Regions from separate parts of the Homo sapiens genome. Here all the other regions are reported to be linked to region 4. The links are microRNA targets in miRTarBase. Many come from high-throughput screens and were not tested one by one. Region 4 holds a microRNA gene; each other region holds the end of a gene's coding sequence.

The links. The annotated mature microRNA hsa-miR-6830-3p reads UGUCUUUCUUCUCUCCCUUGCAG and lies in region 4 at 2,356-2,378, opposite strand. An mRNA with a match to its seed (bases 2 to 7 or 8) in the 3' UTR can be bound and repressed. Matches are read on the target gene's strand: a 7mer-m8 pairs with bases 2 to 8, a 7mer-A1 pairs with bases 2 to 7 and ends in A, and an 8mer does both.
Region 1: the mRNA of CRISP1 is a reported target of hsa-miR-6830-3p. Seed matches in the 3' UTR shown: 7mer-A1 at 4,968-4,974.
Region 2: the mRNA of IER5 is a reported target of hsa-miR-6830-3p. Seed matches in the 3' UTR shown: 7mer-m8 at 2,047-2,053 and 8mer at 3,165-3,172.
Region 3: miRTarBase lists PCDH17 as a target of hsa-miR-6830-3p. Seed matches in the 3' UTR shown: 7mer-m8 at 845-851.

What each region holds. Positions count from the first base shown.
Region 1 is chr6:49,829,617-49,836,740 of GRCh38, forward strand. It overlaps CRISP1 (cysteine rich secretory protein 1), which reads right to left. Exons shown (of 8, transcript NM_001131.3): 8 at 4,641-5,827. The coding sequence ends at 5,700. Among named protein-coding and RNA genes, the nearest start is that of CRISP1, 33 kb to the right of the region's middle.
Region 2 is chr1:181,088,629-181,095,752 of GRCh38, forward strand. It overlaps IER5 (immediate early response 5), which reads left to right and starts at 72. Exons shown (of 1, transcript NM_016545.5): 1 at 72-4,272. The coding sequence starts at 275. The coding sequence ends at 1,258. RefSeq lists silencers at 1-120, 431-590, 791-1,010, 1,585-1,879 and an enhancer at 1,401-1,570.
Region 3 is chr13:57,724,545-57,731,668 of GRCh38, forward strand. PCDH17 (protocadherin 17) reads left to right here. Exons shown (of 4, transcript NM_001040429.3): 4 at 68-4,767. The coding sequence ends at 750. Among named protein-coding and RNA genes, the nearest start is that of PCDH17, 96 kb to the left of the region's middle.
Region 4 is chr5:132,215,494-132,222,617 of GRCh38, forward strand. MIR6830 (microRNA 6830) reads right to left here and starts at 2,425; the gene lies at 2,356-2,425. It overlaps P4HA2 (prolyl 4-hydroxylase subunit alpha 2), which reads right to left. Exons shown (of 15, transcript NM_001017974.2): 2 at 3,052-3,151; 3 at 2,259-2,355; 4 at 1,704-1,855. The coding sequence starts at 3,133.

The DNA of each region.
Region 1 (7,124 bases), not on the chromosome of region 4:
GCTGTGAATGCCATAAATACCACCTCATGGTCTTGTTTCGGAAGTACTTTTCTGGAAGGTTTTTGCATTTAAGTGGTAATGAATTCTGAACTTCAAGTTCCGTGAAGCCGGATAAAAACATTTCTATTCCATTTTTACATGAGGCCATTGGTTTCACAGTATGAAAATTTCTATATTGCTTCTTGATTTTTCTTCCCATAAAAACATGCAGTAACTACAGGCTAATATAAGTATAAGGAACGTACCACATTCCTACTATGATACAATGGTTTCCTGTATATGATCCCAGAACTGTTCTGGTATCACCATTCCTTTAGCAGTGTCCTTCTTTGTTAAGGAAAACACAGTATTTACCATGATGTCCCAACTATTTAGGCTTTGAGCACATTTCAAAAGTCCACTATTACCTTGCATGGCAATTATCAGTCTGGACACTTTGAAAGATTTTATTTTCTTTGAAAGATTTTATTTTTATTTTAGTCTCCACATAAATCTATATAGAATATAGTATATATTGTAGTGTTCTTATAATGGAGAGTCAAGAATGTGCTACCTTTGTTTGGGACCTCATTTAGGCTTTCTTTTCAAGTTACCCAGTAATCTAGATCTATTTTGTGCCACCCTGCCCTCCACTGCCACCTGACAACCTAAACAGATTTTTGTTCTGAATGGTGACCTTTTCTACCTTTGCTTCACAGATCATCCTGACTTTCATTCCTACATGTAAACACACACGCACACACACACACACACACACACACACACACACACACAGAGAGAGAGAGAGAGAGAAACACATATCTGTTTTGGGCTCCTGAGTCTGTGACACTCCTCCCCAGACAGTGACCTTGAAATATACCATGAGTTTTCATACTATGAGTAAATGTGCTACTCTGTCCATAAACACTGTTGATAAGCTATGGACATGAGGGTGATGTTGAAGACCATTCCGAAAAATTACACCGTTGTTTGCCACACATTTTCTTGGAGATAGCCTATGAAGCTATTTAAGTCACTTAACCAATATTCATCTTTGAAGTAAACATGGTTTCTACTCCCTCCTGCAAGTCATGTGACACATGGTGGAAACCTAGGGAACTTTCTTTTATATCAACTTTCAGGAGAAAAGAGTGGATTCTGGGGAAAATAAAACACACTGAAACTAAAAACAAATACCAGGTATCGGGCTTTGTTTGTAGCTACACTGTTGGCCATATTTCTTTTTTTTTTTCTTTTTTCTTTTTTTTTTTCTTTTTGAGACGGAGTCTCGCTCTGTCGCCCAGGCTGAAGTGCAGTGGCACGATCTCGGCTCACTGCAAGCTCCGCCTCCCGGGTTCACGCCATTCTCCTGCCTCAGCCTCCTGAGTAGCTGGGACTTAAGGCGCCCGCCACCACGCCCGGTTAATTTTTTGTATTTTTAGTAGAGACGGGGTTTCACCGTGTTAGCCAGGATGGTCTCCATCTCCTGAACCTCATGATCCACCCGCCTCGGCCTCCCAAAGTGCTGGGACTACAGGCGTGAGCCACCGCGCCTGGCCCCATATTTCTTTAATGTTCAAATTTACTAATGTTTATGTCCTCATTTGAAACAGGCAAAGATTTGTGCTTCTTGATCACTGAATATATTAATATTTTGCAACACTAAGGATTCACTGTTTAATATTTTGTTTTCACTTTCATTCCTCTACTTACTTAAAACGTGTGTCTGAAAAGGTTTATCTGCATTTTTTTCAAATTATGTAATTTAATAAAATGAAATCAAAGGATTAGATATTTCAAATAACTCACAGCGGCATAAAGTGTTTCCAGTTATGATGTTAGAAATGTAAAAAATCAGAAAATGCTTGAGTGAAAGGAGGAATGAGAGCAACAGAGGACGTAGATGGAGGAGGGAAAGACTGGATCATGTCATTTGTATTAGATTCTATAATTTTGACTTTTGGAAAACTGCATCTCTCATCAAAAGAATATAAAAACTTTAATCGTTTTTCTAACCACCTGCATAGTATTTCATATCATGGATCATTCCTAATTTACTTAACCATTTATTGCACTTACGTGTATTTTTATAGCATTTGGTTTTCCTTTATTATAAATAATGCTTAAGTAAAAATCTTTTTATAGAGATACATTTTTGCATGTGAGTATTTCAGTATAATACATTCCTTCATGAGAAACTAACAAACCAAAAACCATGTTATTTTTAATATCACTTGGTATCTTTAAATAGGGGTCTTTCTACAAACTTTTAGTTCCCACTAATGATGTATTGAAATGGTTGCCTCTTCCCACTTCTCTGATGGGTAGATTTTAACATATAATTAATTTATTCTTGGCTGGACAGAAAGATAATCCTAACTATATTTGGAATACACTTTTTTGCATTATGAAAGAGGTAACTTTTCTGTTTAATGGCATGTGCATTTCTGTACCTATTTGGTGGTTTTTCTCTCCTTTTTTTTCTAATGTAACACTTTTCATTATTATCAATCTATAGATTCATTTTCTATATTTATGTAAACATACATAAGTCACATAGATCAACTATGTATCGACCTTTTAAAAGATTTAAAAATTAATCTTAACCTTTCACTTGCTGTACTTCTGCCTTTATACATTTTTTTTTGTTTTCCAGTGAAATTACTATCTTCAAATAAATACTTTCAAGATTTCATGTCATGATTTTGTTCAAATTTCCTGCCCTAGTATTTTAATACTGTTTTCCAAAAATTATCTTTCTCATATGTAAATATCTTTATCAAAACACACATCTTTAATTTAATTTTAATTTTGGTGGTCTCTATTGAATAATTATTTTCCAAATGAATTTAGGATAAACATGTAAATTCTATAAAAGCTCTTCTTGATATTTCCATTCTGATTGCATTGAATTACTAAATAATGTGGTGAAATCAGGTATTTCTACTAAATTGAATGTCTTCTTTAATCAAAGGTAGTTTTATACTATAGATTTCTGTGAAAGCTCCTTTATTGTATTAATAAATTATTCCATACTTGTTATGTTATTTGGGTTGGGGCAGAGACTGTTCATTTATCACCATAACACATGTTCACTGCTGAGTTCACAAAAGGGAAGAGTCCAGAGCGTGCCGCTCAACTATGTCTGAAAGGCAGAGCTCAGGGACTGGAGTTTGAAGAGAATGAATAATAATGCCAGCTAATAGTTATCGAGCACACTTTAAGCACAAGATACCTTTCTAAGGATTTTACATACTAACTCATTCAATCCTTAAAACAAACTTATGAAGTAGGTTCTATCTCTTACTATAACTTATAGATGAGGACAAAGAAAAATAATCTTTTTCAAAGTCACAGAGCAAGCACATGTTGTGTCCTGAATTCAAACCAGCTGGGTGACACCTCTGCTCATGCTCTTAATCTTTGTATTACACACTTAGAACTATTTTTTTTCTTTTACTACTGTGAAAGTACAGACTGCCACTGGATATTGTTTCTGCTTCAGAATTATTTGTTATTATTTATTCTATATTCAATAACATTTGGAAAGAGGTGTAAGACTGTTTCCATTTTTTAGAAAGATGTTGCATGGTAAATAAGAGTTTTTTCTCTGTCATCTAAAATAGCTTTTTTAATGATTTTCCAAACAATATGTGTGATTCTGAAAGCTTTTGAGATAATAGAAGAATGGTGTACATGAGGTCATCCACCGCCCCCAACCTTCTTCATTACAGGGTACTTTTCACACAGTCAGTTTGCTCTGAGATATTTTTTGGGGGGAATACTTTTTATATTTAACAAATACAATTTATTGTGAGATAAGCCAACATATTATTTAAATTTGGGTAATGTAGACAAATGAGGTCAAAGTTTTGTTACTTGCTTATTTGATTTTCCTTAGACGTAGGCATACCCTTCCTCCTCCTTCCCCAACCCTTAAGAAATATTTGAATATGCTTACTCTTATGCAAAGTGGGAAGAGATGTGATTGGAATGCAAATTTTGAGAAGTATCATGTTAATTTCTAGAAAGAGCATATTGTAGTGTAAGAATACAGTAACACTGCCTGCCAATATGTTACAGTAGACTGCAGGATTAGTTGGTTATCTAGCATGCAAAATTCAGAACTCAGGGCTCTAATTTAATTATTCTAAAATCTAATGCTACCTTGGTGAGGTAAGAGAAATCACAATACCTGGTAATGCAAAAATGAGTAAAGATTTTCTACAGCACACACATTTAATTTTCTTAGAGTAAATTATTACTTTGATTTTTGTAATGAGTTCCATTTATTAAATATTTCGGCTATAAAGTACCAGCCTACTTACTGTGTCCCAGGATGAGTCACTGTTCTCCTGATGTTAATATGTCCATGATTGTGCTAATGACAATTACTCAAAAGATAGATACAATCAAGTGGATAGATCTAACATATGTAGTTTAAGTAAAAAGTGAGAATGGGTCTGAAGGATTTACATGGGAGAAATGCCCATAGATCTAAATGGAAAGACATGGGTCATGTCAAGAGGGCGTCATTCTCAAATTGTCCTCTTTTCTTGGAGCCACACAGAATTTTTGTACCTGTGACGAGAACCTCTGTATGATGCAGAATGGGTTTGAGGTATGGCTTACCTGTTTACTTTTGGAAAGTGGGTGATGTCTTTTTTTTTTTTTTCAAACACTTTATTGAAATGAGTAAAGAAATATACAAGTAGGTAGAACTGGGTATAACTTTGGTATAATGTTAAAATTTGACCAAGTATTTTTAGCCTTCCCTTTCCCCATGTCAGGCCCTTCAATATTCCCTAAGGCTTCAGTGCATTTTACGTTAGTTGGCCTTAACTGTGCTCTTCCATTGTGTTGAAATAATCATAACCTTTGCAACCCTGTTTACTCAGAAGATGTTCCTCATTCCACCCTAAGGCTTTCCTGAATCTCCAAACAGAAGCTATTTATGCTCATCTGGCAATAATAATATGTGACCTATATGTCTTTAGGGACTTAATTTCTCATATTATGCTATTTTATATATCTTTTATACTGCCTTTGCAATGAAATGAAACTATATTCCTTCCATATATATAAACATGCATCTTGTATGCAATCAGTACTGAATACATATTTTGTTAAATTAATGGCATACGAAGCTTTTTTATTGTTTCTTGCTTCACAAATGTATATATAGATGTGTCAATAAAACAATGAGACATTTAAACTACTTCCAATTAAATGATATTTACCTTGCAAGATGAGACTGAACTCTGTTTGCTTTGTGGATTCCTTTAATGATTGATTTAAAGTAGAAGTAAAATTTTAAAAGTGAAGAATTATTACTGGATGTTAGTTGTGCAGGGAAGATAATCAGAGTGGTTGAAAATATGGGGAAGGCGGGGGTGGGAGTTGAACCACATAAGACCTATTTTAGCCCAGGTTACTGTTGAGGGACCCAGTTATACCATAAGTTGAATTATGCCAACTTAAAAACTATAAATCACATGATTTAAATTTAAGGCAGGTGTTGGACTTGACCTTTTACTCCAGCACTAAGAAAGTTTAAAACAGTGTTACTTCAGGATGTATCAGGATGGGAGTTAAGGTCTCCAGCATGATTAAAATCAGTGAAATTTAGCAGAAGCTACTGAACTATAGCAAAAGACATGAATCCAACAGACATCTCCTCCTCATCGTCACAGCATAGAACAGTTGAAAATAACAAAGACCTATTTTATCTCAGTGTCACACAGACAAGTGGCTTTACAGAATAGGATAGTTGTTGAGTGGTTGCATCCCAGATAATGGACTTGTATGTCACAGTCGAAGTATTCATCATAGTAGATGCAGGGGTTAGCTGAAAGAAAATAGTATGGTTTTACAACACAGTCTTTTAAAAATCGCATTTGCTGAGGAAAGAGACCATCTTATTAAAGACAAAAAGAGAAATTTTTATTAACAATTGCTAACTAAATTTAATTAGCATAAGCTAACTAAATCTGAATGCAAAACAGGTGATAAGATCATGTATGAAAAGAAAAAGGTAAAATTTTTGTCTTTGTGTAAAACAAGTTTTTATCACAATTTTTTAAGTCCAATATAAACAGATTGGAGAGGAATCATATTTTTAATTACACTGTCATTTTGAAAGTATTAACTATGCCATTGCAATATAAAATATTCATAATTTTTTGTCTAATTATCTAATGCTGCATTATTTAATGGTTAAAGATTTGCTTTGGATTATTAAAAGTAATGTATAGCCAATGGAAAATGGAATTAAAAAGCACATATAGGATGGCATATATAATCTCTCCATCCACCCAGAGGTTATCTCAACTAACATTCTAGTGATTTTTCTCACCTTGCTCTATCCCATGGATGTGCACGCACCTACATCCTGGTACATACAGAGGCAGAAATGCACACGAAATTCTCCAATCAGTATGAAGATACCCAAAATTTTAAATTTGTGGCAATAGCACCAAAAAGCTTACCAAAATATTTTTTGACCTGAATTCTCTATCACAACTAACCAATGTATCTATTTGTCTCTATATAAAGGCAAAAATAACAATAATTTAATTCCCTCTCTCTTTTAAGATTTTCTGACCTTTATGCAGTCCTGAATTTGAATCTTGACAATGGAAAAATTTAAATTTTCCCATTATATCTCTTATCCTTCAATTATAAAGTTTGATCATTGCATGAAATTTATAACAATCTTATAAATTTTATTTTTATTTTTATTTTATTTTTTTTTTTTTGAGACGGAGTCTCGCTCTGTGGCCCAGGCAGGAGTGCAGTGGTGCAATCTCGGCTCACTGCAAGCTCTGCCTCCCGGGTTCACGCCATTCTCCTGCCTCAGCCTCCCGAGTAGCTGGGACTACAGGCGCCCGCCATCACGCCCTGCTAATTTTTTTTTTATTTTTTAGTAGAGACGGGGTTTCACCATGTTAGCCAGGGTGGTCTACGATCTCCTGACCTCGTGATCCGCCCGCCTCGGCCTCCCAAAGTGCTGGGATTACAAGCGTGAGCCACCGCGCCCGGCCTACAAATTTTAAATTTACATTTATGTCTTACTGTTTATTATTTTAGTGAATATCCTTCTATGCTATACACATTTTCCTCTTCCTAAATTATTAAACTGATTC
Region 2 (7,124 bases), not on the chromosome of region 4:
GAACGGTTGGCGGCCCTTCGTGATTGGCGGTCGAGAAGCCTATATAAGGCGCGGGGCAGCCAGGCTGCCCTGTTTAGCGACCGGACCCGAAACGGGGAAGTTGTCTTGTTTGGAGAGGTTAGTAGAGCAGCGCGCGCGTCACCAGAGTCGTTTCTCTTCGGAGTCTTAGGTGATCGAGGGTGTGCCCAGGGGGCGGACTTGTTTGCGCCTCCCGTTCCCTCCCAATTTCCAAACGTGTCACCCCGGCGCCGACGGCCCTGTGCAGGGGAAGCAGATGGAGTTCAAGCTGGAGGCTCATCGCATCGTCAGCATCTCTCTGGGCAAGATCTACAACTCGCGGGTCCAGCGCGGCGGCATCAAGCTGCATAAGAACCTCCTGGTCTCGCTGGTGCTGCGCAGCGCCCGCCAAGTCTACCTGAGCGACCCGTGCCCCGGCCTCTACCTGGCCGGTCCCGCTGGGACCCCGGCGCCGCCACCGCAGCAGCAGCCCGGGGAGCCGGCGGCCGGGCCACCCGCCGGCTGGGGAGAGCCGCCCCCGCCCGCCGCTCGTGCCTCTTGGCCGGAGACCGAGCCGCAGCCGGAGCGCTCCTCCGTCTCAGACGCGCCGCGGGTAGGGGACGAGGTGCCGGTGGCCACGGTGACTGGAGTCGGGGACGTTTTTCAGGGCGGAGAGGCGGACGCGACGGAAGCTGCCTGGAGCCGCGTGGAGGGGCCGCGCCAGGCGGCGGCCAGAGAAGCCGAGGGTACCGCCGGAGGCTGGGGCGTCTTCCCCGAGGTATCTCGTGCCGCGCGCCGCCCCTGCGGCTGCCCCCTAGGCGGGGAGGACCCGCCGGGTACACCGGCCGCGACCCCCCGCGCTGCCTGCTGCTGCGCGCCGCAACCAGCGGAGGACGAGCCCCCCGCGCCGCCCGCGGTGTGCCCCAGGAAGCGCTGCGCGGCGGGGGTGGGCGGCGGCCCAGCGGGCTGCCCGGCGCCCGGCTCGACCCCGCTCAAGAAGCCCCGCCGGAACTTAGAGCAGCCGCCGAGTGGAGGAGAGGACGACGACGCGGAGGAGATGGAGACCGGGAACGTGGCTAACCTCATCAGCATCTTCGGTTCCAGTTTCTCGGGACTCCTACGGAAAAGCCCCGGGGGCGGCAGAGAGGAAGAGGAGGGAGAGGAGAGCGGTCCGGAAGCCGCCGAGCCCGGGCAGATCTGCTGCGATAAGCCGGTGCTGAGAGACATGAACCCCTGGAGCACAGCCATCGTGGCCTTCTGAGCCCTTGGCCCCCCTGCGGGGAGGAGGTGGAGCAGCGGGCGTCCCCGAAGTGAGGGCCAGGCCCTTCCCGGCTGCGAGGACGCCCAGAGACCGCGGGCGCTGAGCGCGTTGGGCAGACTGGTTGCCTCTGGGCATCGCAAACTGCCCCCGGGCGCATCTGGCTTATCTGGAGACCTGGGAGCTTGAGGCTCATTGGAAGAGGACGATCGTTAACTTTTGTGTTTGTGTATGTCTGTGTATGTAAGTTTGTCTTGTGGCATTAAGACTATTTTGCTCTTCTGGAATGCACCACTCCTTCCCCAGGGTTTAAGAGATTGGGGGCAGACAGGGACTTTCCTCTGCCGGCTGCGTGGAGAAGGAAGCGGCTAAAAGGTTTGGGCCGGGGAGTTCCCCATTCGTTCTCCGGGGAGGGAGGGACTTTACACCTACCCCTCACCGGAAAGCTAGACCCGCTTCAGGGCCAGGAGTGGCGTTTCCGCACAGGATTTCCTAAGACGAGAGGGATTTAGCCAAGAGCACAGACTTGGATTCCTTCTGTCCCTCCCCACCTTTCTCTCCCAATGAAGAAACGTTTATATCCTGTGATTACTCTAGGAAAGGGGCGTATTAACGGTCCTTTGCTTCCCCGCAGGGGAGAAAAAGCTTGACGAACTTCACAGAAGAGTTCAAGCTTGGAAATAATGGAGTTTATAGAGAAAAGATATATTTTTAAAAGCTCTAGGTCAGAAGTACTACACAGTGCTTTTAAAAAGTGTTTAATGAGAGTTTACAGACAGAAGCCCGAAGTGGAAAGACCTTATGGTTTTGTAGATATGGTGACTCCAGTCTTTGTTGTATAAAGGTTGGGGGAGCTGATAAGGTTTTTGTACAGTATTTTCTCCTTCGTTGTATTGATTTTTGTATAAAAATGTAACTTCTACGTGTCTAACACGTATTAAATATTTTGAAGCAACGTAACTGCCTGCTTGTCTGTAATAACCTGCCTGGGTTGGGAGGGAAGTGGGAGGAGGGAAACCAGGGCCTGAGCTAGAAAATTGAAGGTGTGGTTCTTAGTATCAGTCATTCGCAGACTGAGGACATTGTTTACTGACTCCACTAAGTATCAAGAGAGACACGTTTAATTTTTCCTCCTAGATCAGAGGACTGCTATTAGATACTAATATCGGCGACCTGTCAGGTTCTAGAAACCTGCCACTACAACTGCCTTTTCTAAGGTCAGTTTAGACCAATTTGTCACCCAATATGTGGGTGTCTAATACTAAGTAATTTAACCAACTTTTGAAGCCCCGCTTATCCACAAAAATGTTTTTCAGCAAAACTTTGTTTCCTGTTAAGCTATTAATACGGGTCATCTTTTAGCTTTGTAATTGAAAAAAAAAAAGTTTAGATAGTAGTTTACCTTAAAAGCCCATTCGAACTGACATAGGAAGATGAAAGAGACTGACTTGTCCAAATTGTCAGGTCCACCTCTGCATCACAGTGGATGTCAGGATGTAAATTTTCAGTTTTTCTCTTACATCTAGAAAGTAAATATATTGCTGAGAGGGAAATTGTTTGCATCAAACCAGATAAGGAAGGAGGGCTAGGCAAATTTAGTTCTCATTTAGCAAAACTTCCTGATTTGTTTTGTTACTTAAATGGTGACATCAGTGTTTGGTCATGGTAGACACTTAGGTGATGATAGCCAAAACATCCATCGATTTTACTAAAATCACTGCCATTAAGAGAGTTTTTTGTCTCTTCATGTTCAATGTTTGAAAGGTATTCAGTAATCTATTTCAGAAGCAAATCAATTAGGGAATGGTGTTTATTAAAATACGGTACAGTTGCCAGGACTTTAAAAGATGGTACTGGTTTCTAACAACTTACGAGTATATAGGGTATTTAAAAGATGGGAGAGATTGAAGAAAGACAAAGGTTTAAAGGTCATAGCCTTCGAGCATAAGAGGCATATGAATGGTGTCTTGGCCTTAACTCCCAATTATACGAACTTCTGTTTTAGCTGAATAGGCCAGTGCCTCGTGCCTTGATATTTCGGCAAATCTATTAGTGGTTCCTTAAGCATAGGGAACTTTGTACTTTATGCTCTGTCGCCATAATAATGTATTTATAGAATTAAACATTCTCAAATTAGGGTCTTGTTAAACTGACTTTTTCTTTCAGAAAGTAGCTACTTAAATTCTGTTACAGCTACAAAAGATCCATCAAGTGCTGACTGCTTAAACTGAAGAAGGTGTCCAGGGCCTTAATTCTGCAAACATTTCCTGTTGTTAGAAAGTATGATGCTTGAACAGCGATCTCAGTGTATTTTATGTTTTAAAGGGGGTAACGTTTGGTGTGTTTAAGAGAGCTGATGTGTTTTGGATGAGACTAAAGTTGATCCTTGGTTTTACATTAAGATGAACCTGGGTCCATGTGTCTGCTTAAAGAATGTAAATTGGCATACTTGATAGGAGGATAAAGCTTTGTAGGAATTAGAAAAGATCATTCTCTTTTTTGTTGCAGAAGCAGTATAGTATAGTAGTTAGAGCATGGGCCCTGGAGCCAGGCTGCTTGGTGTCTTCCTTTATTTATTTATTTATTTAATTATAAAAAGTAAATATAAAGTGAGCTATGTTGACCAGGTTCGTCTTGAACTCCTGGCCTCAAGCAATCCTCCTGCCTCAGCCTCCCAAAGTGCTGGGATTACAGGCATGAGCCACCACAACCTGGCCTGCTTGGGTTTTTCTATCTTGGCTCTGCCACCTAGCTGTGGGTCCTTGGACAAGTTACTTCATCTCTCTGTGCCTCAGGTTTTTCAAATGTAAAATTGGGATAATTGGATCTGTCTCATAGGGTTGTGAAAATTAATGAGTTAATGCTCTTAGAAGAGTACCTCATATGTAATAAGCACGCAACTGTTAATTATTGTTAATGTAGAAGTTAATTCTGTGTATAAATCAGATACACTGTGGTCAAAGATTTGTGTGTATTTGTAAGAAAAGAGGAGAATGGAGAATCTATTTTTAAGTGGTCCTATGTGTGAATGCTGGGTTCTTTTATTCCTCTTTTTCTCTGGACACTTGGCAGTCAGGAAGCTTTGTTCTACCAACATAGTTTTGTTGCTGTGAATGTCTCACACCAACCGGATGATTTTTCCAATTGTATCAAACAACTCTATTTTCAGGGAGGAGTAAGCTGAAGTGAAAACAGGCAAGGAGCAAAGTTCTTGTTGACATACAAATGCTTTCTGTGGATGAGTAAAGAAAAAAGTAGCCCATAAAGTTATTTTTGCTTGAATTATTGCGCATGGAATGTTTAAAACATGCTTATTGATAGGTTCTGGACAAGAGCCTTCCCAATGCCAACCTAGGGCTATCACACAACCAAATCAGATGCAGTGTGACTAGAAACGATGCCATGGTTTTAGTACCTAACCACTTCTTCACCACTCTGGGAGGGACCTAGTCTCTTGATCAAATTAACCTTAGCTCTGGGGTGTAAAAAAACCTTCTGACTGCTGCGTAAAAGCCAGATGTTTAAAGTGCTTTCCAACAAGTACTCCAAGAAGATCACATTAATAGGGAATAAAGTCTGGGCGCGGTGGCTCACACCTGTAATCCCAGCACTTTGGGAGGCCGAGGCAGGTGGATCACCTGAGGTCAGGAGTTCAAGACCAGCCTGGCCAACATGGTGAAACCCTGTCTCTACTAAAAATATAAAAATTAGCCAGGTGTGGTGGTGGGAAAAAAGAGAATAAAGGGATAAATGTTAGTAATGTATTTTTTTTTTTGAGACAGAGTCTTGCTCTGTCACCCAGGCTAGAGTGCAGTGGTGTGATCTCAGCTCACTGTAACCTCTGCCTCCCTAGTTCAAGCGATTGTCCTGCTTCAGCCTCCCAAAGTGCTGGGATTACAGGCATGCACCACCACGTCTGGCTAACTTTTGTATTTTTAGTAGAGACGGGGTTTCACCATGTTGACCAGGCTGGTCTCAAACTCCTGACCTCCGGTGATCCACCTGCCTTGGCCTCCCAAAGTGCTGGGATTACAGGCGTGAGCCACTGCCCCCGGCCTAGTATGTACTTCTCAACCATGTTGTTTTAACCCTGTCTTCCCTTTTAGAAACCATCATTTGTTCTTGGCGATGGGAACTAATGATGGAAAGCCTGAATTGCTCCTCCAAGGTGACTGGGTTTTCTTTATGGCACCAAATAACCTTTCCATTCCTTCTACTCATCACTGATTGGATTTGGGAGTGTGAAGTGAGAGGAAATGGGTCATTTGACAACTTTGGTGGAAAGCTTCTCAGAATAAAGATGTCAGAAATATTGGGAATGAAATTAATAATTATAAAACTGTTCCATCTTATCACTGGGTTAGTCTGAGTCTCTCTTACTGCAACTTACTAGGCATGATAACCTAGCCTCAGATCCTGTGTGATGGGGTCGACAGGCTAATCCCACTGTGATATGGCATTTGATGGACATTTATTTCCTTGTACTTTTTTAAAAAAAAGTAGAGTTAGTTCAGTTCACTGAATAACCAAAGGATTTCTGATCTCTTGCCCTAAATATTTTATTCTTCTCCTGTTTGTGAATTTTTTATTCTTCTAGACTTCCTTTTATCCCAGCAGTCCCTGAAAAAAGACAGGAATGAAAAGAAACGCTGATCCAACCTTTCCGTGACTATGAAAGAGGCCATTACTATGAGGTGCAGTGCTCCGGTGGGGAGGGAGGCCTGCTTCCCAGGATTCCTGGCACTCTTTCCAGTAATGAGCAGTTTGTCTCTCAGCCTTTGAACCATTGTTCAAATTTAAAATTCAACCCAGTGGAAAGCCTTGGGAGGAAAAAACATAGAAGGAGAGTTGATGTTAGGAATCACTGTGATCTTAACACATGCCCTTGGAGTTTTTCAGTAATAATTCTTAAGGGTACGATAGGGAACAAATGTGGAAGAGCAGAAAGTGTGAAAGGATACGCACATCTAGCTGAATGCCTCCTTCCTGATTCAAACACAGTTTTTCCCAATGCCTGCTACCACTGCTCCCTCCCGCAGTGGGAATGGGGGTTTTAAAATAAAATCTCTCTCTAGCAATTGCTGTCTCCCAGAGGAATACAGCCCAAAGCTCTTTGCTGGACTACAGCCTGGGGTTTATCTCAGACCTCTGGAATCCTTCAGGCAGGGAAGGAGAAACCTCCAGGGACTGCATTCCTGAAAGGGCCTCTCCTCTTTCCTCTCCAGACCAGCAGCAGCCTCTATCACCGGATGCTGCCCACTTATGGGCAGGTGAAATAGAGTATTGGCTATCAGCTTTTGGAAGCTGCAGGAAGAAGGGCTGGTACCCAGCACTGCTACTGAGCATCTCTAGCAGGTGATTCTTTTAGGGGACTGGCATAGAGCTGGCCTGGTGTATTATATTAGTCCGTTTTCACACCACTATAAAGAAATACCCAAGACTGGGTAACTGACAAAAGAGATTTAATTGGCTCACAGTTCGCATGTCTGGGGAAGCCTCAGGAAACTTACAATCATGGTGGAAGGGGAAGCGGGCACGTCTTACATGGCAGCAGGTGAGGGCACGTGTAAGCGCGGGAAAAACTACCATTTATAAAACTATCATGGGAACAGCATGGGGGAACCACCCCATAATCCAATTACTTCTCTCCCCTGACACTGGGGATTACAACTTGAGATTTGGGTGGGGACATAGAGGCAAACCGTTATCATCTGGGATATTTGCAGTAAATCTACTTTTTATGTAATAAAGTTTTCTGGGACCTGGTCACAAGAAGCCTCTAGGCCTGTGTGGTAAGCCATATCCCTAACTTACAGGATGGTGAGACAGCTGCCCCTTTTCCATCCATTTAGCACCAAGGCAGTCCTGG
Region 3 (7,124 bases), not on the chromosome of region 4:
CAGCCTCTGTAGAAATTTAAAGAAAACTCTAATGATTGGATTTGCTGTTTTCTCTTTTGTTTTGCAGAACCAGAAGAGTGTGTTAATTGCACAGATGAATGCCGAGTGCTTGGTCATTCTGACAGGTGCTGGATGCCACAGTTCCCTGCAGCCAATCAGGCTGAAAATGCAGATTACCGCACAAATCTCTTTGTACCTACAGTTGAAGCTAATGTTGAGACTGAGACTTACGAAACTGTGAATCCCACTGGGAAAAAGACTTTTTGTACATTTGGAAAAGACAAGCGAGAGCACACTATTCTCATTGCCAACGTTAAACCTTATTTAAAAGCCAAACGTGCCCTGAGCCCTCTCCTCCAAGAGGTCCCCTCAGCATCAAGCAGCCCAACCAAGGCGTGCATCGAGCCTTGCACCTCAACAAAAGGCTCCCTGGATGGCTGTGAAGCAAAACCAGGAGCCCTGGCTGAAGCAAGCAGTCAGTACTTGCCCACTGACAGTCAATATCTGTCACCTAGTAAGCAACCAAGAGACCCTCCCTTCATGGCTTCCGATCAGATGGCAAGGGTCTTTGCAGATGTGCATTCCAGAGCCAGCCGGGATTCCAGTGAGATGGGTGCTGTTCTTGAGCAGCTTGACCACCCCAACAGGGATCTGGGCAGAGAGTCTGTGGATGCAGAGGAAGTTGTGAGAGAAATTGATAAGCTTTTGCAAGACTGCCGGGGAAACGACCCTGTGGCTGTGAGAAAGTGAAAAAAGAAAAAAAAAAAGGCATTGGCATTTTCTTGTCTCTTCTGTTGATTTAAAAATGATCCCTCCTGGTGATAACCCATTTTACAGGGATGAAGAAAGACCAATGCTGCTTTAAGGCTTTTAGTGAACATCTGAAGTGCCCACAAGTATGTTCTTTCCACTGCTGATTTCTTTTTCAGAGATAACAATGGTTTCGTTTTGACCAAACTTGTATTAGGACAGAATTAATGATGCTTAAAGAGAAAAGAAAAAAAGAGAGAAGAAAAAGGAGAGATGAAAAAGGAGGATGAGGAGAAGAATTACCTTTTGACAATCTGTTAGGAAGGTATGCAGTGTGAGAACTGAAGTATTTCTGATCACTCTCAGACTGTCCTCCGTGATTTATGCTGACTTAACTGTTTACCTATAAACCCCATACAAAGCAGGGTCATAATTTGTGATCTGTGGTGGATTTCTAGCAGTCATCACAGGCTTCTACTGAAAGTCCTGAAAAGACCTTGCAGTAGTCCAAGCTACACCAAACATTAACACATATTTGTGGTAAACATTTCTGTATAAAGTTACCTGACACACATATAAACACAAGGAACATTCCATATCATTAGTCGAAAACAAAAACAAAAAAAAAACCTTTGGTCATTTGTAAGACATCTCATGTCATATAAAAGTTAAATGTAAAAAGATACAGTCCATTTTGTCCTGCACACACGTAGACTAATTCACGTCATTAAAGAAGAAGAAAACTTAAAGATTTAAAATGCCTATTTAGCATTTTAGTGTCCAACAAAGATTTAAACAATGATGAATATGTTTTAAATTTGACATAGAAAAGTTCTAAAAAATAGTTACCATTGAGTGGTAAGATTCAGAGAAAATTAACTTGATTAATATGTTTTATTCATTTGTGGACACTAAAATAGCTCAGGAAAGTGAAAATGTCTTAGACATACGCAAGTCACATGACCATTTAAATGTGCAAATGTAAGAAGATTCAATGTGTTTACATCAAATGACATATTTTATTGATTTATTGCAGATTCAGTGCATATGAGCCAAATTGTTGAGTGTGTAAGAGCTATATTGTGTATTTTATTAAATTAATATATAGTTGTGTTGCAAAAATATTTGGGCTTATATTGTAAATGGCAAGTGTTGCCTTGGTAGCTGTCGAACTCTATGAGTTTTGTTTTTTCCTGCTTCCTTTTCCCCATGGAGTGTGGGAAGCAGTGCCTCAGAGCAAAGTCTCTTGTTTAATGTATAGTCTACCAAGTACTACAGTACATAATCTGTTCAAAATGTGTTTGAGTGAGCTGATGGAGCTAACTGAAAGGTCAAAAATTACATCCATCAGTCATGGTTATGTGCAAGTCCTTGTAGAAGCTTTTATTAAAGTCATGCTAAATCACAAGAATTGACATTTGTACCAATATCTGAAACTTCTTCATGTTTTTTCAATAACATACAGCTTCTGCCTGTGTAGATATTATGCCATCAGTTGGTTCTCAAAAGTATTTTAAGTGCTTCAGATGTGTGTTCCCATTATATTTTGAAAACATGAAAAATGCTTTAATGCATGTATGTACCAGCAGTGGTTACTTGCATTGTGTAGTGTTTTTCAAGAGGTCTGGGTCTTAACAAAATGTTTTCCTTTATCTCAGTGCTCTTCTGCCTCTTTTTGTTGGTGTCCTTTGAGAACAATACACCTTCTATTCCTTCATTTGGTTACACCTTTCCTTGTGACATTTAGCGAGTTTCAAACTTACTTCCATATGAGGCTAAGAAACCTCAAATTTCAGGAATTGGGAAAAATAAAATTAGCACTTGCAGAAGTAGCAGCAGATGGGAAAATGCCTTGATTGACATTTTCTTTCAGCATTTAAAATTTTTGGCATTTTACAGCTTCATGACAAACAGTTTTGTGCCCATACCTTAGAAAATGTGGTGCTGAGTTAAATAAAGGCTGTTTGAGCACTGGAGCAGAAAAATGCATTATTTGCAAACTGGTGGATAATTTTGTGCCTTCTCTTCTGGCCACCAAGCCAGTGTAGAAACAGCAAAAATGTCATAAAAATTCTTATATTTAAAACAAAAACAAAAGCAAAAACAAACATTGAATTAAATTAAGTTTTGTAATTTTAAACTTTAAAAACTTCTACTGAAAATATTTCCGCCAAATGCCATCAATATTTTAGACTGTACCTCGTTTGCAAAACTGCTTTGAGAGGGAAGAGTGGACAACTCCCATCAGCCTTATTCTCTTGAGAACTATATTTTGGTTCCTAGTAACAGCCTTTCCAAAGCTCTACTCTTGGTTTTTATTACTCATAAATGTTTAAATTAGAAAAGAAGGGACCTTGTACATGTGAAACCTAATTGACTCTCTATATTTTGGACAATTTATGTATCTGAAATGTGTTGTCTCTGTTATATGATGTTATTTTTGCCAGGAGACTACAGGTTGATTTAGCTTGATAGCTGAAATTTGATGGAAAACTGATTTCCATTTAGTCTTACCAAGTGTTGCTTCTCTCTTACTAGACAGATATCCACTTAGTAAAATCTAAAGCAGTATGTAAATGAAACCAGCAAAGAGAGTAGGGTTTATTTTATAAACATTCTTAATGCTAAGTAACCAGTTGTTCAATTTATTATATGTGTCTGAGGACATTAAAACACCATAAGGTTGTAATAATTGGTTGTGCCAATGTGTGAGGGATTTACCTTTAGGCTCTCTGTCACCAGTGATTTACTAGTGTTAGCTGTTTAACACATTATCTGTATTTAGTAGTGATTATTTATTTACAAGTTGGTGGTAATTCAGCAGTCAGGACTCTAAGCTTTTATAGTTGAATTGAGGAAATCTCGCTTTTATTCATTTAGCTGGCAACTGCCTTTATTGCAGACCTCTGGTGCTTGGCTTTCAAGGAAGCCTATGAGATGCCAAAATCACACCTTTAGAGAGCACCTTGCTCTAATAGGTGATGCATGAGCAAACAGTGAGATTTGAAGGGGTTTTAACATAATTTAGAATGTGAAAAAAATATCAATTCATATCTTTCAAGTACTAACCCCTCAAAAAAGCCCACACATACAAAATATGTGATGTGATACCACTTTGTCTTTTAGGTCTTTAAGTAACTGAAGTTAAGCACAGAAAAAAAAATCACTTCATGGAAATTTCAGTAAGAAACCCAAACTTCTAAAAATTGCTTGCAGATGAGCTAAAAAAAAAAAAAAAAAAAAAAAGCAACAAAATAACCTTTTCATCAGAGTTAAAAGTAGTGAGAATCTGTTAGTTATACGTATACCAAAGTAAACATTAAAGAGACATATCATGCAATTTCAAAGAATTCTTTCATGCTATTTCTTAACCTGACATTTCTAACTTTATTGCAGGCAATATACAAAGATTGGCTCACTACTCCATAGGTTAATTGAATTCCTGGTTGAGAAACTAACTTGTTTTGTTTTCCAAAATTAGCTGAAATCTTGTAAAACATGACTTCCCTTTAAAGGATCTAGATATTGTTCAATTTAAAATATGGCACCATAAAAAAGTCATGTAGTAATAGAGCATATGCTTTTTTAGAACCAGGTTAAAAGCTGTTTGTTATCTAATAGAGTAAAAGTTACTGAGGTCAACAGATAGACAGGTCTGGCATAATATATGCCCAGTCATAATAGTCTAATTATATTCTTTTGACAACAGACAGCATTCATCAGAGCACTAATTCGAATGAGAGTTTTGGCTATCAAGATGTGTTGATTCTAAATATTATTGAATGAGACCTGATTAAAGTCTGACTTTCCTGGCCCCAGTGTTTTGCAGGTTGGCTATTTCCATTATCAGCCCATCACTCCATAAAGTTCTTAGCTGCACCAAGTGATTGGTGAACAAGGACAACAACAAAAGCAGCATACATTGTATGGATTTATCTCAACGCTATTGTTTAATGGCTGTGTTTAATGTGATCTATCTGGAAAATGAGGACTCCGAATAAAAAGCTATTACTAATAGTGGTGTTGCCTTCCCTTGAATTCATTAACCCAGAAGGGATGTGTTACACACTTCCCTGTGCATATCACAGGGACCCTGATCATAATTATTTTGGAAAAGCAAACTGTGGCATCACAGCTCATTTTGCTAGTTATCTGCTTGCCATTAAAATAAGACTTTTTTAAACAAAAATTACTTGATAGTATCACTAGTTTCTCAATAGAAGTGGATTAACAATCTTTCACATAGCTTAGATAAATTGGCTAGTTAAATAATTACCAAAGGGTCATAGCCTAATAATATTTGTGGTTTTAAATATTTACAATTAATATAAAGAGAATTTGGCATAAGATCTCAGAGGATTTCAGAAAAGTACATTTATAAGCTCTGTCATAATCTTACATGACTAATGAAAGCAAATAGAATAGTCCTCTCTCATCCGCAGGGGAAACGTTCTGAGACCCCTAGTAAATGCCTGAAACTCCAGATAGTACAGAATCCAATATATACAATATGTATAAATGGTATTTTAAAGTAAACACATATTTATCTTGGCATTTAAAAATAATAAACCTCCTTTTCTCCTCATTTAACAAGCATCTATTGCATTCCTACTATGTGTTTGCCTTGGGCTATGATGCCTCAGGAGTAAACACTAAAAAGGAATGGTGTCAGAGTTACTATCTTGTTGGACAAGTAATTAGGTACATTCTAATACACATTACTCTTTATAAATTAGATTTGGTCGTTTGCATTTTTTCTTAGTTAATCCACACATCCCACATATCTGCCATTTCACTAACTGAGTGACATCTTCTAAATTTCAAACTAGTGTAATATTCTTTTTGTTTGGAATTTTTTAAAATTTTACTTTTCTTCTAGCTGCATAACATATATCATGAAGAGTGCATTGCTTTTCCATATCTAAGAAGATCTTTATAGGTTAGATTTATTGTTATAGATTAAATAACTTGCATATTTGTCCTTTTGTTCATTTATTTGCTTGCTTTTTCTTTTTTATTGAAGACCACTTATGCACTAGGTGCTATACAAGGATCCTAAGGTACAAAGAAGTGCTAAGCCAATTACATTTTGCCCTTAGAATATGTATAGTTTTTGCTTGGTGATATTTACTAACATAGAAATTGACCTTATTCTACCTTAACACTACTACTTAATACAAGTAATTTCATTACATAAAGAAAATAACTTTACTTTTAAGAACAGCAAAATCCATATGCTTACCATGCCATTCCTTCACTGCCCTCAAGTACACCAAGCTGATAACTGAGTTACCTGAACAATCTGACCAGGGTTGAGGGCGTACTGAGTCTTTCAAATGAAGTTCCCTGTCTGGCTATGCTGCAATTAGGAGGAAACTGTGGAAGGGACATATATCACAGGCTTACTCGATATCAATGAAATGTTAAAGTCCTCCAGATAATATTTACTTAAGTAGGTATACTCACTAGATACAATTATTTGGCAATAGCAATTAAATTAATTTGTAAAGACCAGTATAGCATCAATAAGGCACATACAAATAGATCAGCCAGCTAATGGACTATTTTAAAGCTCTTTATTACCTGCTTTTGGAGGTGGTGGATGCATATGGCTCACCAATGGCATGTATCATTTTCTGTTCATTTTAGACACTAATGATATTTTAAGAAATCTATTCTACATTAGGGATCAAATTCTCAGTATTCCTAAAAGAGAGTGCAGCTTCTTTTAACGTTCTTCATTTTAAATATTTCAGAAAGAGTTATCAAAAAATAACTTAGGTTTTGGTCAAACTATGGCAATAAGTATTTTACATGCAAGGAATAAGTAAGGGAGGGAAGATATTGGTGAGCTTTTACAAACTGTATATTACACAGATCAACTTACCGTTCATTAACTCTAAATAGATGCTCTACTTTTTCTCTTACAAAATGAAACATCTCACTTTGAGAGGAATGATTTCCTATTTGTTCCACACTCCATTTCTTATATACATTAAATTATTTAAAATAATCAAATAAACCACATTTTAATTATGATTCATATTTTAAAATATAGCTTTCTGAAGTTATGTAATTCAAATTACTTCATAACATTTTCCAAAGATTGTAAGGAAAAAGAACCAAATTTTGAACCTTTTTTAATTAACTTCAAATAGATTATCATTAGATTTTGTTTAAAAAATTGGCATTCAGGGCTGCTCATATGAAGACTATGCTTACTTTCCTAAGGATAATTCAGAACCTAAATTAATAATAATAAACTCTGCTTATAGAGCATATTTCAATTCACAGAACACTTTCACAAATTTTTAAGATATTATGGAAGTAAGGATTCTGAAGCTCAAAGAGGTCAATGGACTTATTCAAGGGCG
Region 4 (7,124 bases):
AGCCGTGGTTTCTGGAGGCAGTGAGCTCACTGGGCACAGCTCCAGCCTGGCTGAGCTCACCAATCCCTCTCCAGAGGCCACCCTGCCCCCAGGCCCAACCCAGTCTGGCCACATGGGCTAAAATGTCTCAGCCAGAGAGACAGCTAGTCTGAAGTTAATCAGCACTCACAGCTCAGGGAAAAGAGGCAGTGAAGAGCTGGGTACAATGGCACTGTGCCTATAGTCCCAGCTACTCAGGAGGCTGAGGCAGGAGGATCACGTGAGGCCAGGAGTCCAAGGTTGCAGTGTGCTACAATCGCACCTGTGAATAGCCACTGCACTCCAGTCTAGGCTAATATAGTGAGACCCTGTCCCTTTAAAAAAAAAAAAAAAAAAAAAAAAAAAGGCAGCGGGCATGGTGGCTCACACCTGTAATCCCAGCACTTTGGGAGGTGGAGATGGGTGGATCACGAGGTCAAGAGATCAAGAACATCCTAGCCAACATGGTGAAACCCTGTCTCTACTAAAAATACCAAAAAAAAATTAGCTGGGCATGGTGGCATGTGCCTATAGTCCCAGCTAGTCAGGAGGCTGAGGCAGAAGAATTGCTTGAACCCGGAGGCAGAGGTTGCAGTGAGCCGAGATCCCGCCACTACACTCCAGCCTGGTGACAGAGTGAGACTCAGTCTCAAAAAAAAAAAAAAAAAAAAAAAAAGTCAGTGAGTCCAGGGGACTAAACCCAGGGCTAGGAGTTAGGAGAGCCCACCTCCAGGCCCACCGTACCATCTCTTCTTATTGACAGAAAAGTATTAGGGCATAAAAAGTATTATCACAATAAAAGCACCAAGTATAGTTTAAAGCTTTTAAAAAGTTCACACTCTCATCGGTAATATCACTTCTAGGAACTTACCCTAAAAAAGTAATCAGAAGTATACACCAAGAAATATGTAAAAAGGTGCTGATAATTCAGAAAAAATCCCATATCCAATGACTTGACCCATTTGACAGTATTATCAGTATGACAGATTATCACCATCTGACAGGTAATCACCATCCAGCCATTAAAATCATGTTGCAGAAGAACATTGAATGGCATATAAAGAAGCTGAGAAATTCACAGAATTTTTTCTTCTGTCACAAATCTACCAACAGATATGCTTTGTTTGTAAAACATATGAATAGGAATGAATTTAGATCAGACCTATGCTCCCCAACTTGCCCTGGCCCCACCATCCAGCCCACTTGACACTTGTAAATTCATTGTCCCTCCAAGCAACTGAGTTTGCATGCCCTGGTATGTATGTATAGTTCCATTTTTTAAATGTATATGCATAGGTAGAAAAACTACAATTTTAATAATGCTCACCACTGGGCAACTGGATTAAGAATTATAATTCTCTTGTTTTTGTGTTTTCCGACTTTTCTATAAACATGTATCACTAAAGTATAATTGGAAAAATGTCATTAGCAAAAAATAAGAAAAGACAGACACTAAAAAAAAGACGCTAAAAAAAGAACTGAACATCATTACATGTTAAAAACCAAGGCCAGCCAACTTCCAGGTCCCCACAGAGAAGGGAGAGAGCCATGAGACCAGCAGGGTCCTGTTTCCACAATGTACTTGCCCACCAACACCCAGACCCAAGACAGGCTCAGACACAACAACCCAGGCATGAGCACACAAACATATGGGCTCACTCAAGCACCTGCTCACCGTCCCTCACCTGCAGCTGAGTCCTGCAGGACAAGGTCCTCCAGCGCAGGCCAGTCTGTGTTTAGCCGCTTCACCAGTTTGTAGGCATTCACAGGGTGAGCCAGGTAGCCCTCAGCATCAGCAGCTGACTTGCTAGTCAAGGCTTCCATTTTGTTGGCCCAGCTGTGGAACCAGAGGAAAAGGAAGACTAATGCGTCCACCCACATAGGTCTTGACCTGTGACAATTTTCCTAGTGAGAATTCCCTGGTGCCAGGTTCTGGGGCCCTTTTCATCAAGAGGCAATGAAAAATGAATACAGTAACTCCCCACAGATACTTCTAGCCCCTTAATCTAGATAACAGCTGGGACCCCCAATGTAAGGGAAAAGGTCTTAAATAGAAAATAAACAGTGACTCCTTAGCCCATGTACTTAGCTCCTCTCAAGCACTGGCATGAAGTAACCAGGCCAGCCCCACATCACCCTCTCAAAGGTTTCCTCTTATAGGCACCCTGGATGGCTTCCTTGTTCCTTGAGGGGCAGAAGGGAAGGAAGGCCAACTAAGGATGGTTGGGGACTTAGGACACCTCTTAATCTTGGAAAGCTTGGCTTCCTCCACAAGGATGTACTCTTTCAGAGACTGCACCAGCTCTTTCTCTGCATAAATCAGGTCAGTCATGTGCCCTGCAAGGGAGAGAAGAAAGACACCAGTGAGAAACAGATGAGGGATGTCCAGCCTCCTTCCTTGGGGCACAGAATACCAGCACAGAAGCAAGTCCCCTGGGATAAGAACATGTCAGCTCTCTGAGGATTATGGGGACTTGGAGTTAAAGGGGGCCTAGGCACTCATGGGGCTCTATCTCGCAACTTCAGGAAGAAAGAGGCAGAGGCACCAAGGGGATGTTTGAGATAAGTGCACTGGATGTCACTCAAGAAGCAGCCCTAAATCTCATTCTCCGACTGTTACATAGCTGGTCATGACACTGGGGCATGGATATCCTGGGGGCTCACCACAGGATAAAAAGCTCTGAACTTTAGGTCGGAAGGATAGGAAAAGCTTGATCCTCAGGATACAAAGGATTTGCTGCTCAGAACCACTCTCTGGTCCATGGGCAAGGTGGTCAAAAAGACCAGAGAGCCCAAGTGCAGCCTGCACTTCCCAGGAAGAAAGACCCAATTCAGACATCTGGCTCCCTGAACATCCAGATCATTGGGATCTTATAGGGGAAAACAGCAACTCTGCCAGTTCCACTCTCCTCAGAACTGGCCAAAACCAGTAGTTAAGGCTATCCCACTCTAAATGAGAACAGGCTGCAGCCAGAGACATCCGTGGCATGTGAGCCAAGGTGTCAGGGAGACGACAGTCCTGTTGGCACGTACCAATAGAGGTGAAGAATTCGGCCTGCACACAGCTCAGGACACCAAACCAGGCCATCAGCAATGCAGACACCCAGAGTTTCATGGTCACAGAGGGAAGTGTCTGAAAGGCATTCAATGACAATCACTGGATCAACAAAGTGAAAAAGACTAATTTAGGTGAGGAGACACATAGGCATGTACACACATATGCAGATAATCAAACATATCAAAATCCTGGCCTAGCACACAGAAGCTAAAAAGGACAAACAGCAGAAAGAACAAAGAGCGTGCAGCCAGTGATGTGTGCTCAATTCTGGTCCCTGCTCTGGGAAGTCACGTGCCCTGCGGAGAGAGCCCATCCTCTCAACTCCCAGCAACCACCTGTACCATGAGAAGGCGGAATCGCAGTGGGGTACAGTCAGCTCGGGTTCCAATGGTCTGTCAGTCCAAGATTCTGGCCCACTCCTTCTTATTTCACAGACTGCTGTTTGTTTCTATCTTACCTTCCAACACATATGCCAGGACAGTGCCAGGTTTTGGGGAACCAGTCCCTGCCCACAAGGAGGCAACAGTACATGAGAGACAATAACAGAAAGATAATTTGACACAATATCCTCCAGAGTACCAACACCCAAACTAAGGTGTACAACAGATGGCCAGCCAGAAGAGGAATAAAACTAACCCTTGTCAGTCTGCACCTGCCAGAGAAAGAGCAGTCAGAGGAGACAGTCTCCTAGGTAGACAGTGTTCTTCCTGTAGTAAGGCTCCTTGGCAGACACTGTTCTCACTGGCCCGTCACCATTCATTCACAAATATTTACTGAAGACCTGCAGATGCCAGGCACTGATCTAGGCACTCAGGATACAAAAATGAATATGGCACACATGGCCAAAACCTCAGGCTGGGCTGCTGACATGGGAAAGGGGCCAGCTACTGTCTTCTCATCAGCCCAGAAATAGGCACAACCTGAGACAAACCCCACTGGCAGTAAACCTCAGTCCACAACAGAAGCCTCCGATACCGTCTCCCAGCTCAGCCATGCAGCCTAGACTGTGCTGGAGGATTAGCACCCATCTGTACCCCAGCTCTGCCGGTCTTCTTCCTGCCCTGCTTTTGAGCACCCCACTGGAGTGCTCAAATGGAAATTCACTAAGACAAAGCAAGCAAAACAAAGGAAATACAAATGCTTTCCCAAAAAAACATAAGCCTTATCTGACAGAATTCTAAGTCTAAGATAATGCCAGTTCATCAGTTTTTTGCCCGCCATACTTGATTAGACACACAGCACACCCACCATTCCTCATCTTACTCTTTCAGAAGAAATCCTAATCCATTGAGATTCCAGGTTAGGCTCAGAGAAGGCCAACCACAACTCCCATCTGCAAATGGATCCTCTATCAGAAGGAAAGCATAAGTGAATGGCGCCATGTGTTCATGCCTATGCCAAATGTCTGCAGAGCTGACAGTCTTCCTGTCATAGTCTAGGTGTGGGGGTCCCAAGACACACAGGACAATTATCTTCCAACCTGGAACCTGCTGCAGGGTAGGGCGTATTGTGCTAAGGGGTCCATTAGGGAGTTAGAGCAGCAGAAGAGAGCAAGTCATCAAGAGAAAGTGAGTAAGCCTGGGCTTGCCCTGAGGCAGAGTCCAGGCCCTCCTGGTTCTAGCCACAGGTCTGCTCCAAGGCCTTACTATACTGTCTTCTCTATCCCAGGATTTCAGAAGGCTTCTCTCTTGCTTACACAAGCCCCTTATACCTAAGGGATTGGGTGTCTGTTTCTTGTTCCTCAAAAGGCTTGACTGGCTCAGGCTCAGCACCTTCTGTATGTATGTAGGGAGGGGACAGTGAAAACATAGAGCTGGGAGGATGTATCTGTGATCAGAAAGGGACCAGCTGACTGCTCCTCAGAGCTGGGGTGGTGGGAGAACAGGGCCCAGGCAGGTTCCAAACCAGACATGGTTGGAAGTGGGGAACCCAGCATCTCTACCCAGGTGTGTCTCCAGTTGCAGTTGCATACCTTTTTAGAGGCCAGATAAATTCCAGGGAGGAAGTCTGTCCATTCCTTTCAAATCATTCTGCTCCTATCATCTACGGTTCATACCTCACAACACTCAGGGAAAGCCAGGTTTCTTCATTACATGAATACCAGCTGTGATTTCTCTGGAATGTGCGATCTGGCTTAGACTGAGCCCATTCTTGAATCTCAGCCTGGAGGCAGAGCCTCAAAGAATCACAGATAGGGTTTGGGCAGAGCCTCAAAGAATCACAGATGGGGTTTGGGCAGAGCCTCAAAGAATCACAGGTAATTACAGATGACTTACCTACCAAGAGCCTGCAAAGTCTTGCTCTGGTGGGAGAAGGGGATAACTAACTCTGCTAGCCTGGAGAGCTGGGCACCTCCAAGCAGCAGCTCCCAGACTACCACATCAACACTGACATCTCTGGCAGGGGTACTCTGGAGCCCTACCCCATTTCTCCCAAGCCTGGGCCCCTTAACTCAAAAGGCTCTGTACAAAAAGTCCTCTAATTAGAGTCAGATTGGGAGGAGGCAGCATCCGAGAGGGACTGTGCCCCACAATGTGGGAAAGGCCAACCTCCAACCCATCTCATAACTATGCCCACAGCTTGCTTAAGACAGAGTAGGTGAAAGTATGTGTACCTGCTGAGTGCCCCTACAAAGTGTCCAGTGCTGCTAAAAGCCCTCCCAGAAACCCTCAGAATCCAACTGGAATAAGTCTGGAGGTGAACAATGTCAAACCCACTTTTATGAAAAACAAAGTGACATCTTGAGCAGAAAACCAATACTGAGTTTTATCTGTGCTGCATCCCCAGAGTTTAGAACAATGTCTGTCCCATACCAGGAACACAACAAAAAATACTTCACCACAGACTTGTTCAAATTAGGAAACTACAACAATAGAAGATTTTACATTTCTTCTATACAATGAGTTTTTATGGAGTATATTAAAAATGAATACTATATATCAACATGAAGAGATCTAAGCATACTGTTAAGTGAGAAAAGTGGGCCCCAATAATATGCACTCTATAATTCCATTTTTGTAAGGAAAAATTAATGTATATGTGTATATAGAGAGATGCAAGAAAAGAGTCATACATCTGGCTATATCTTGGTGAAATAATTTCTTTTTATTTTTATGCTTGTTTCTCTAATCTTTCTACAAGAAATTCTATAGCAATTTTTAAAATTATTTTATCATATGCTTAAAATGTAAAGAAAACAAAGCAGGCCCTTCTCAAACAGACTCCAAACGGGCCCTGCCAGCCCTAGTGTTTGGACCCCCACAGGAAAGTCCTGCAAAACCTGCCAACATCCCAGCAACAGTGATTCACCCATCAGGCGACTGGCACTGTTTCTAAACACAGGGCAATTCCAAGACATACAACCAGAGGTCCCACCAAACCTGAACTTTGGAAAAGACATTTACAATCTGGCCAAATGGCCATGAAAAGATGTTTCCAGCTGCAAACCAGCAGCGTCCTTAGCTTCTCTCCTTACCTCATCAGGCAGAATCTCTGCCAAGCTCCCAGCTGCAACCCAAATGCAACAGCCTGAGTTTTAACAATGTATTTAACAGCCTAGAGACAGAACATGAGCTTGCTGAGAACAAACTGGTCTTGCTTGGCACTGAACAAGAACCTGCCTGCCTTCTGTGAAGGGGGAAAACCTAACTGGACACGGCTCCCCGCTGCCTCCAACTCTAGGATAACAGGGCTGAAAGGACCTGTGTGTTCAGCCTAAGAGGATCCAGAGGCTCCAGGAGACCCTGCCACCAAAGCACATGGATGTCCATTCAGGCCTATAAGCTGCTGCCACGGCACCCTAGGCAAGTATGGGGGGTACCCTACTCTCCTTAGCCTCAGTCATCACCCTGATCTGAGCCACCCCTAACTTCCCCTACAGGCATCCTGGCCCCCACTACACTGGCCTCTCCACATGTCATCTGGCCTTCCTCCCACCTCTGCTCTACAAAGTAGCCAGCATGGTTTATCAAAGCCCTCCTTTGGCTCTCTACTGCCGTCAAGATAAAGTTCAAACTCTTTAGCCCAAAGGGTCCTTTTGAGTGTGTGA